Linked DNA regions of Homo sapiens. The protein of the gene in region 3 purifies or fractionates together with the protein of the main gene of each other region. This does not show direct contact. Each region holds a gene or a part of one and is shown on either strand. Other genes may lie near its edges.

Region 1 (3,652 bases), on a different chromosome or scaffold from region 3:
CTAGACACTGGGCCTTCTGACTCTTCCTCCATCACCCTCTCCCCAGGAGATGGGAGACTCTTCAGAGTCCCTGTGGATTGATAAGGGACCCAGACTTAGAAGCAGTTTGATCAAGCAGATTCTGTGGATATAATGCAGCAGTTTCTAAAGTCCCAGGGCAGGGAGAGTTTGATACTGTGAGCATCCATGGGAGAGGGAAAGGCAGGATTCTGAACCACAGCTCGGTGTTGGGGGCAGTTCTATGGGCTCTGAGGGCTTCAGAGAAAAAAGAAACTAAGAGGCAAATAGGACAGGTTGGGTGGGCTTTCTAATTGAGACAAGAGGAGGCTCTTTGGGAGGTGGTCAGGGGAAAAGATGGTCAGTGCTTTTTCTGGACAAATCCAGGGGCCAATTGAGGTGGGGAGTCTATGAGAAGGGCCCTGTCAGCTGAGGCGAGGGAAAGGGCAGAGGACCTAGAATAAAAGGATATGGCCTCTCTGTGCACTAGCAGGATGGGTAGGAAAGGGAGATATGAAAAGACGAAATGGGGACCGGGTGCGGTGGCTCACGCCTGTAATCCCAGCACTTTGGGAGGCCAAGGCAGGCAGATCACTTGAAGTCAGGAGTTCGAGAGGAGTTCAAGTCCTCCCTGGCCAACATGGTGAAACCTTGCGTCTACTAAGAACAGGAAATTAGCCGGGTGTGGTGCGTGCGCCTGTAGTCCCAGCTACTCGGGGGGCTGAGGCACGAGAATCACTTGAACCCAAAAAGTGGAGGTTTCAGTGAGCCGAGACTGCGCCACTGCACTCCAGCCTGGGTGACAGAGCGAGACCTCATCTCAAAAAAGAAAAAGAAAAAAAAGATGAAAGGGAATACCTTGGGCAAAACAAAAGCCAGGGCAATTTGTGTAGGGAAATCTAAAGAAAAAAAAAAAAAAGACAAGATAGAGTCAGGGCTAAAGGGTAACTAGCAACGGCAAGAGGGCCCCAAAAGGGAAAGACTTTACAACACTAATGTTTTGAACCTGGACCAACCTAACTCTGATAAAATTGGAAGGCTATACATCCCCCTGATCATATGCCCTTTGTATCTTAAGATTTCCTAAGCAGTAAAAAGTTCACAAACCAGATGAAGATGTTAACCGCAGTCCTATTAAAAATAACAGAAGTAAGGGTGCAACTCAAACGTCCCCCAAATAGGGGAACAGGTTAGGCAACCATACCACATCTACTGCATGGAATGCTACACTGCCACTTAGAATCATGAACTACGAAAAATGATGTGGCAACATTGAAAAATATTTATAATGCAATATGCAATAAATTAAAGCCAGGGATCTACCCTCCAATGAAAGCTGGGTTCCTTTTTCCTAATGGACTTATTAGGATGAGGTAGGATCAAAGCAAAAGGAGAAAAGCTGGAAATCCTAGGGGTTGGGTCTTTGTGGGAGAAATCTCAGTTCTCCTCTGCTTCTGGTATGCCAGGGAGACAGCAGAAGATGACCTCTCCCTCTCCTCTCTCCTCATTCCCCTCTCCTCAAAAGGCAATGAGATGCTGGATGGAGGAAGCCTCTGTTCTACGTGAATATATCCTATTGTAAAACCTCTTTTTTGTCTAGAACTTTGGGATAGGGTGCTAGCATGGCCCAGGGCTATCCAGAAACTCTGAGACACAGTCAGTGTGTCAGTGGACCAAGTGAAACGCTTCGAAGACTTGAAAGTGTCCCTAACATAGTTTGCTAACCCACTCAGAAGACATGACTTCGATTCTCAAAGATTCCCCCGAGAGAAGTCAGCACCATGTCCTCAGTAGGCTGCTAAAATAGATCTCCTTTTCATCTAAATTAGTTATTTCTTCTGTAAGCATAATCTTTCTTCTTCTCTCTTGGGTCTCTGGGTAAGTGAAGAGCAATTTATTCTCTTCAGTTGATAAACTTCAAAGGAGAAGCCTCAGCCTCAGCACTTGTGCTTTTGTCTGCTTTGTCTCCCCTTTGTAAGCTTTCATTTGGGGGTAAAAAAAAAAAAGAAAAGTTCTGCTGATGAACAAAAAGTTTGAAAACCACCAAAATCTCCCAGATTAGACAGCCAAGGCCCAGAGGAGGAAGTATCTTGCCATGGCTCTAAGTGGCAGGTAGGCACTGAAAACCCGAGGCCCCTGACGGCAGGCCTGAGCTTGTCCACGGCCTGGCTCTCCCTGCCAATTGTGCCGCACCTTTGTCTCCAGCCACCGGAGGTGAACAGGGCTCCCCAGGCTGACATACAAGGGTTCTTTTTCTGCATTATCATAACCGCACCTGGGGCTGAGCCTCAGCTCTAGCCCTCAGAGGTGGCACAAGTGATAATTCCAAAAGAGAAAGGCCCCTCCCTGAAAACTGCTCATTTTCGCTCTATCTCACCAGAAAGTCTGCATCGACCATCCTGGGAGGCAAAACCCAGGTGGTGGGAGGCTGCTTATAAATACCAGCATTGTTGGAAGACGTCCCAGTAGCATCCTATGGAGGTGAGCACCAGGGTCCCTATTTACTGATGAGGGGCCCAGGGTTCCAGCTGGGCCATGCCTACATTTTCCAGAGGCAAGACCATGTTCCTTAATTCCTCCCTGGTGGGTGGTCTTCCGGGTGGGGGTGGGCCATCTCTGGACAGATATTTCAGAAATGCCAGAAAAGAGCCTCTGCCTGTCCCTACAAATCTTTCAACCAGCTCCCTGCCTTCCATCCTACAATCAGAGCTCAAGGTTAAAATGCAAACACACTCAGGGAAAGGGGGAAGGCGCAACAGTCACACGAAGGTGCAGAAGGCTTGTAGCAGTCCCTTCAAAAGATCAGGTTTTCTGGGGGTAAGAAGTTAGGGTTCAGGAAAGGATTGTATGGAGAGGAAGGGAGGGTCAGGCTACCTCAGGTCTTTGCTTTGGAACCTTCCATAACACTTTCTTTTCTTTTTTCTTTTGAGATAGGGTCTTGCTCTGTCGCCCAGGCTGGAGCGCAGTGGCACGATCTCAGCTCACTGCTACCTCCGCCTCCCGGGTCCAAGCAATTCTCATGCCTCAACCATCTGAGTAGCTGGGATTATAGGTATGTGCTACCATGCCTGGATAATTTTTGTATTAAATATTTTTAGTAGAGACAGCGTTTCACTATGTCGGCCAGCCTGGTCTCGAACTCCTGGCCTCGTATGATCCACCCACCTCGGCCTCCCAAAGTTCTGGGATTACAGACATGAGCCACTGTGCCCGGCCTCAAAACACTTTCTATCACTATGTATTCAAATGTATCATCAGGAGTTTTCAGTGAGCCTTCTTGTGACCGTCTGGAAATATAAAGAGACTCTGGCAAAAGGCTAGAACCCCCTCGCCCTCTGATTTAGCCTCCTTGGCTATACCATTGCCTCAGCCTACCTCAGAAGCACGCCGAACCCCCAGGTCACACTGCTGGACCAAATCCGCCCTTCACTGCTGAGACATCAGCCCAAAAAGCAAGCAAAGAGCCACACAGAGGAGACTTGGCTTTGACCTCAGGCCAGGCTGGGAAGCTACTTTACCTGAAGCCACATGACCAGGGGCAGTTCTGAGAAGTTCTTGCAGGAGTTGGTGGCATAATAGAGCCACCAGAACATGTAGGCATCCTTGCGGACCGTCACATAATCCCATACTTCCTTGCCCTCCTCTGTGGGCCAGT
Region 2 (3,652 bases), on a different chromosome or scaffold from region 3:
CACCTCAGCCTCCCAAGTAGCTGGGACTACAGGTATGTGCCACCATGCCCAGCTAATTTCGTTTTTTGTTTTTTTTGTAGAGATAAGGTCTTGGTATATTGCCCAGGCTGGTCTTGAACTCCTGGGCTCAAGCAATCTGCCTTCTTCGATCTCCCAAAGTGCTGTGATTACAGGTGTGAGCCACTGTACCTGGCCAAGATAAGGCTTTTTACATTTAAAACATAGGGATAATATGAAACACTTTTATGGTATGTACCACGTGCCAGGCACTGTTCTAAGTGCTGTCCACATCGACTTATTTATTCTCAAAACAACTTTAAGGCCATGGGTACTATTATTATTCCCTTTTACAAAGGAGGAAACTGAGGCACAGAGGTTCAATGCTTCACTCAGGGTCACTGAGCAATAGGTGGCTATCTGGTGGCTGAGCTGGGATTTGAGCCCAGGCTAGCAGGCTCCAGAGTCCCTGCCCTTAATCATGGTGGCTACAAAGGATAATCTTTTAAATTAAATACATTCATCTTTATATAAAACTTTATAAAACATTTTCCAATTTGCCGTAAACTGTTTCAAATGTCTTAACAGACCAGTGTGTTTGGGGCATCACCATTCTAATCAATAAGACACAGGCTTTCCATTTTATTTCCTTCCCGCAGAGACGTCTCCTTCCAAGGCCATGACATCTAAAGCCCTGGTGAGGCTGAGCACCGCTCATGTGTAGATATAAAATGACCCTAACAGCATCCAGACAGCACCTCCGACCTCTTCAGCAGGAACTCACACAGCCCCTCTCCCCTTTCTTTTTTTTTTTTTTTTTTTTTTTTTTTTGAGACGGAGTCTCGCTCTGTCGCCCAGGCCGGACTGCGGACTGCAGTGGCGCAATCTCGGCTCACTGCAAGCTCCGCTTCCCGGGTTCACGCCATTCTCCTGCCTCAGCCTCCCGAGTAGCTGGGACTACAGGCGCCCGCCACCGCGCCCGGCTAATTTTTTGTATTTTTTTTTTTAGTAGAGACGGGGTTTCACCTTGTTAGCCAGGATGGTCTCGATCTCCTGACCTCATGATCCACCCGCCTCGGCCTCCCAAAGTGCTGGGATTACAGGCGTGAGCCACCGCGCCCGGCCCCCCTCTCCCCTTTCTAGTCCCACTCTGTGTAGCCACTTTCTCCTCCAACTTGTACATGAGGCCTCATGGAACCTGCTTTTTCTCCCTTTTGCAACTGGGCATGCCTTTACCTTGGGAGATGGAGCTTCAGCAGGGCTCCAAGTCCTGCTGCTGATGGAGGCATCATCTAACCCCATCTTCACACTGTGCACTGATGCGCGGCACCTCAACCTCCTCATCCTCTAGCCACCCCACAGTGTTGTCGTGCGAATGAATAATTTAATACTTGTGGAAATTAGCACAGAATAGCTCCTATTATCACTAGTATTATTAGTATAATAATACTCATCCTAAAACAGTCTTTTAGGACTGTTGCGCACTCTATTTTCACTTTGGTTTTACGTAAGAGATGTGGTTTCTTGGCTTGAGTATTTTACATCATATGTTTCTGGTTAGTTGTCTATTTAGCTAACTGTGATTCTCTGTTGGCTCACTATCCACAAAGAAGACATTTGCAACACAAGAGTTCTTCTCTAGGCTGGGCTTGGTGGCTCACGCCTGTAATCCCAGCACTTTGGGAGGCCAAGGCGGATAGATCACCGGAGGTCAGGAGTTCGAGGCCAGCCCAGCCAACAAGGTGAAACCCTGTCTCTACTAAAAATACAAAAAAATTAGCTGGGCAGGGGGTGCATTCCTGTAGTCCCAGCTACTCAGGAGGCTGAGGCAAGAGAATTGCTTATACCTGGGAGGCGGAGGTTGCAGTGAGCCGAGATCGTGCCACTGCATTCCAGCCTGGGTGACAAGAGTGAAACTCCTTCTCAAAAAAAAAAAAAAAAAAAAAAAAGAGTTCTTCCCTAACCCTAAATTCCATCCGAACTAAGACAGGTGGATAATCACCAGAAATCTCCACACGTACAGTTGTGGTTATTCCATTTCTATACTTTACTGTTGTGCAAAGCCCAAGTCCAGATCCAGTGTGGGCTCTGTGGAAAATCCCATCTGCATGGGGACCTGGGGCTCCCAACTGTCATTTGTCTTAACATGGGGAGGCTGTGATGGCTGACTGTCGGCCAGCCCTGCTTGCTGAGATAACCAGGCAAGGAAGGCCGTCTTCTACCTGAGCAGGGGATGGAAAGGAGACCCCCACCCACAGCACAGGGGCTGGCCCCAGAAAACGACGGGGCTGTCACCCCAGGGGCTGCTCACCGGTCTCCCCAAAGGGCAGGGCTTGCTCCCATGGCCTGAACTGTGCCGCACTCCCTCTGTGTGATGGTGGAAGAATCGTGGACCTGGTGTCAGGCTTGGGAACACTGGGTGCTGTGTGACTCTGGTCTCTCAACACTTTCTAAGGGCCTGCTTCCTCCTCTGAGTCAGGATTCGTCAGTCCTACCTCACAGGCCGGATGCGAACATGGAACAAGGCCACGTAGGTCGAGGGCCTGATGCACTAGAGGTGAGAGGAGCAGGTGTTCGGCCTCCCTGCTGCCCACCTGGCATTTATGCTTTGGAGTATGGCTGCTGCTCCTCACGGCAGAAGGTACCTGATAGTGGTGGTGTGAGTGTGTGTGTGTGTGTGTGTGTGTGAGAGAGAGAGAGTGTGTGCCTGTGACAGAGATGGCTCATTCATAGGAGCAGCCAGGCCCTGATGAAGTCCTTGCCTTTCTTTCTTTCTCTGCCCTGCTTCAGGGTTAGGAAGGAGGCCAGCAAGGGAGCTTGACCTAGGGGACCAGATGCCTGGGTGCTGTATCCCTGACGACTGTCTTTGAAGCCAGGTATCCTTCAAAATATGAGGTAAGCAAAGGATGCATGCAAGTAGAAAGGTCATGCTGCCGATGACAGAGATTACCGGTTGTGAGGAAAAACTCACCTGAAATTTATTAGTAGAGTTAAAAGGGATTTCAGCTACTTTGCGGTTTCTTTTTCTAATTTCCATCACATCACCCAAAATGACCTCTGAGAATTTTAAAAGAGCAGTTTCTGAGGCATCTCCAATCACAGCTTTCTGGGAATCAAAGAAGAAAAATATTTGCAGCACATATTTAATGAACCAACATGCCCTCAGCATAGGACCCAAAACACACCCTCCTGATCCCATTACCACCTAGCTGGAGAGACATTATCACGTGATCAGGGAGGGCCGCAAGACCGTGGTAAGCGTGTAAACAACAGTGCCACCTACTGGCATTAGGGATGTTTGGAGAAGCTGGACCTCTGCGAGGACTGAAGATTTCGTGGAAAAAAGCAGCTACGAACTAGATCTTGATAGATAGGTGGGTTACCGATACACAGAGAAGAAAGCCTTCCAGAAACCAGGATGCGGGTGCAGGGGCATGAGGGGCAGGCTCGTCCGTGAGTGTTCAAGGTACAAGCGGATGTGGAGGGTGTGGCAAGACCTGGAGGGCCCTGAAAGGTAGCCTGAGGTCTAGACTTGAGAAGCAGAAAACAGGGAAGTACGGAGAGATTTTGAGCAAAGTTAAGTGACTATAAAAGCACCATTAAGGGAAATTAGTGGCATTCGAGAAAGACCCCAGGAGGGATAAACCGGAATCAA
Region 3 (3,652 bases):
AAGATGATCGTCTCATATCAGGAATTTAAGAATAAAAAATTAAGTAACTTCAATTCTTTAGGAAAATGTTTTTTAGATTACTTCTAGAAGTTTTTACCCTCATCTTTCTTGGGCTGTTCCAGTTTTTGTCTTTGCTCCTTTTTAAAGGCAAAAGCACAGACTTTAAATTATAATAAAGTATCACGTACAAATATCATATATAGGCAGTTTTAGCTGAAATTAAAGTATAGCATGTTAATAATAATTTACATTTATACATTGCCATTATCCAGTAACTGTAAAATAATCTCAAATTCACTTTTCTACCCAAAAGTGACTATCATTTAATATCTAGAATTATCTAATGAAAAGCCTTATTCATAGCATCAGGAATATTTCCATTTAATTAATTTTTATACCTCCATAAAAAACCTCACTCAGTTTCCACTGGTGTGGACTGGTTTTCAGCTAAAAGAAATTCCATGTCTTTGAATGGCAGAAAATGGCATCACTTATAGTAGCCGGTAATTCCCTTTGGTGCAAAGCACTGAGCATGTCAGCATGGTTTGAAAGACCAATAGGATGTCAAGATAAAGCCAAGGGGCAGAGACATCGAACACATAGGACCTAGTCCTGGCTTCGTCACCATGTGCCTGGTCTTCAGGCTCCTCAAGGCATGACATGAGACATGCTGAGCAGTAGTTCCCAAAGTGTGAACCAGGTACCCTGGGGGGTGCCTACATCCTTTAAGGGAGCCCAAAAGATCAAAAACATTTTTGGTCTTATAAAAGATATTATTATTATAAAAGGTAAGAGTTTGATCTTAAAGGATATTATTTGCTCTTTTAAATCTCATACTCTCACAAGTGAGCAGTGGAATTTTCCATAGGCTACACATCACATGATATAACAGATTGAACACAGAAGCCAGTATGAAAATCCAGCTGTCCTCTGTCAAACCAGACTTTAAAGAGAGTTGCAGAAATGTAAAATTGCCACTTTTTACTAAATATCCTTTTCCATTTTGGAAAATATAATGACTTTTCATTTTTTAAAATGTTACTTACATTCACATGTAGTGGGTTTATTATTTTATTTTTAATAAATTAATAAGAAAAACCATTTAAAACTTTCTCCATTTTAATTTCTAATATAGGAGACAGTGTATGGCAGATACACCTGATATCAATAGCGTAACTTAAGCATACCCTGAGAATGACCCTATGGTCTAAGAAGAATGTGTGCTTGGAGTCGAGTTCCGAGCTAAGGAATCTGGGAGTGGCCAGTATAGAGATTCATTCTTATCTATGAGGAACATCTGAATTCCCAGCCCATCCCATGGGATGCAGGCCATACAGGGGATTGGGGACATTTGTTTTGGAATGAATGTAGATTGCCAAGTAGAAGTTGCTAGAGGGAGGGTGCTAAGTGAAAACGCTGTGTAAACTGCATGCTTGTTACAGGCAGCTGTGGTTCTTTTATCCAGCCCACCGCCACTGGACTGCCCTATAGGTAACTCCCCTCAATAAATCCTATGTCTTGTTCACTGGCTCCAGGTCTTTTCTTCAGTACCATCTCTATAAGAGTCAGTAGGGTTCCAGCATGACAAACATCAATAGATATCACCAACATAAACAAAAGTTCTTTGGGGTCCTCAAGAATTCTTTAAAATGGAAAGGAGTTGTGAGAACAAAAATGTTGGCTGGGTGCAGTGGCTCACACCTGTAATCCCACCACTTTGGGGGGCCGAGGCGGGTGGATCAGCTGAGTTCAGGAGTTCGAGACCAGCCTGGCCAACATGGTGAAATCCTGTCTCTACTAAAAATACAAAAATTAGCCAGGCGTGGTGGTGGGTGCCTGTAATCCCAGCTACTCAAGAGGCTGAGGCAGGAGAATCACTTGAACCCTGGAGGCAGACGTTGCAGTGAGCCGAGATTGTCCCATTGCACTCCAGCCTGGGCAACAAGAGTGAAACTCTGTCTCAAAAAAAAGTTGAGAATCACGACAATAGAGGATCTCTGAGAAGTCTTCTGACTGTAAAACTCTAATTCTAAGGTTGTGAGGTTCAGTGGAAAGGAACTTGCATGAACAGATGGCTACGAATGTATGAACTGGGAAAATCAGTGGAGGCTCACAGCGCCCTATGCTCCCCTATGGCAGGCAGTGGGTCCTTCCTCATATAGGCAACTACAATATTGCTCCTCCCTTTTAAGCCCCATCCTTTGCTCCTTCCTCTGCTTCCTGCCTTCCTTGCCAGTACCCCACACACCCACCCCAACTCACACACAGGAGACAGGAAAAGCCCTGGGCAGCAAAGGAAGAGCCATTGGCCTCATGGAAAACCTTGTTTCCTTCTTCTCCCAGCCCCCTAGCTCCAATTAGGACATTGTGGAGCCCCCACCTCTCTACTTATTGATATGATGACCCCTTTACCCAGGGAACACTGCACTCACCCTGCCCAATAGGACTGCCCTAAATGGGTGGGCATATTGGCAGGCTGCAGACGCAGAGCAACATTCTCATACTTGAGTCTTGCTCAGCTCAGACCCACCACAGAGGCTCCAAAGGGGTTGTGAGGCCCCAGGGAATTTTAACCGATGGTATTTGAGATTGGCATTATCCACAATCTGATTGATGGACACTAGCATCAATTTCATCTAGTTGGAAGCAAGAGTCATTTTCCATAAAAGGAGAGTTCATCTTGAGTTAACAGAAAGGAAGAACACCCAGAGTCTCACCTCACCGGAACTATGCTGTGGCCCTTGGTGCATACCACTGGGTATTTTTTATTATTATGCTTGTTCTTATGTCAATTGCTAAAGTTAGAGACCTGGGGTTCCAACTGGCTCTATTTCCTTCAGGATCCATGCACTTCCCATTTCTAGCTAAATCTCACCCCAATGCCAAGCCTCCATTTCCTGATCCATAAAAATATGATGATCATTCCTACAATTTAGGGTCATGGTTGAGATGGGCCCATGAAGAGGCAGGATGCAATGTTCCTGTCACTGCTATCATTTTTATTTGCTGGTGAATCGCTGCAGTGACATTCACTGACTCAGCACCTTCCAGTGGACCAGCACCGCATTGTGTGTGCTCCGGAGGGCTGAAGCAAGTTTTAAAACATCATTTCAGAAGTTGTGTACTTCACAGTTTTCAAATCACTTATCTCGTTTGATCTCATTTTATCCTCACAACAACTTGGATGATTCTCACCCACCCTAATGAAGAAAGCAGAGAACTAGATTTGCATTGTAATTACCATGTTGCCCAAAATGGGAGTCCTCCTATGGAAGGGAAACTTCTTATCACGGCATTTAGCTAGCTCAGTTTTCTTCATAAAACCAGACCTCAGTGCTCACTGTGAATTGCTAAAATCCTCTGTAAGCTGAAGCGCAGACACATATAGTAAGCTGTTTGGGATGGGATGTATGATCCGCACCTGCTGCATACCCAGGGCTGCAGATGGCAAAAGAGAAAGAACTTGGACTATTCATGTCCTCTTACCATTTTCACCAGATGTCTTGTCTTTTCCATTGGTTGCCCCAGCACCTTGTCGCTAAAGGCAAAAAATAAAAGAAAAAAGCAATTGTTATCAGATATACTCGGGATTACTTTTGTCTCTTTTATTGTTGCAAACATCTCTTGCATTATATCAAGTTCTATGTTACTT

What was found.
Region 1: the proteins of PCP4 (region 3) and SCPEP1 purify together in Homo sapiens (affinity purification with mass spectrometry; one large-scale study listed by BioGRID and IntAct). This does not show direct contact.
Region 2: the proteins of PCP4 (region 3) and ATP12A purify together in Homo sapiens (affinity purification with mass spectrometry; one large-scale study listed by BioGRID and IntAct). This does not show direct contact.

Annotation. Positions count from the first base shown.
Region 1 is NC_000017.11:56,981,094-56,984,745, reverse strand, and holds part of SCPEP1 (retinoid-inducible serine carboxypeptidase precursor), read right to left. Parts: coding exon 3,516-3,652; intron 1-3,515. UniProt on the Homo sapiens protein: May be involved in vascular wall and kidney homeostasis.
Region 2 is NC_000013.11:24,693,895-24,697,546, reverse strand, and holds part of ATP12A (potassium-transporting ATPase alpha chain 2), read right to left. Parts: intron 3,104-3,652; coding exon 2,969-3,103; intron 1-2,968. UniProt on the Homo sapiens protein: The catalytic subunit of a H(+)/K(+) ATPase and/or Na(+)/K(+) ATPase pump which transports K(+) ions in exchange for Na(+) and/or H(+) ions across the apical membrane of epithelial cells.
Region 3 is NC_000021.9:39,898,362-39,902,013, reverse strand, and holds part of PCP4 (calmodulin regulator protein PCP4), read right to left. Parts: intron 3,539-3,652; coding exon 3,487-3,538; intron 1-3,486. UniProt on the Homo sapiens protein: Functions as a modulator of calcium-binding by calmodulin. Thereby, regulates calmodulin activity and the different processes it controls.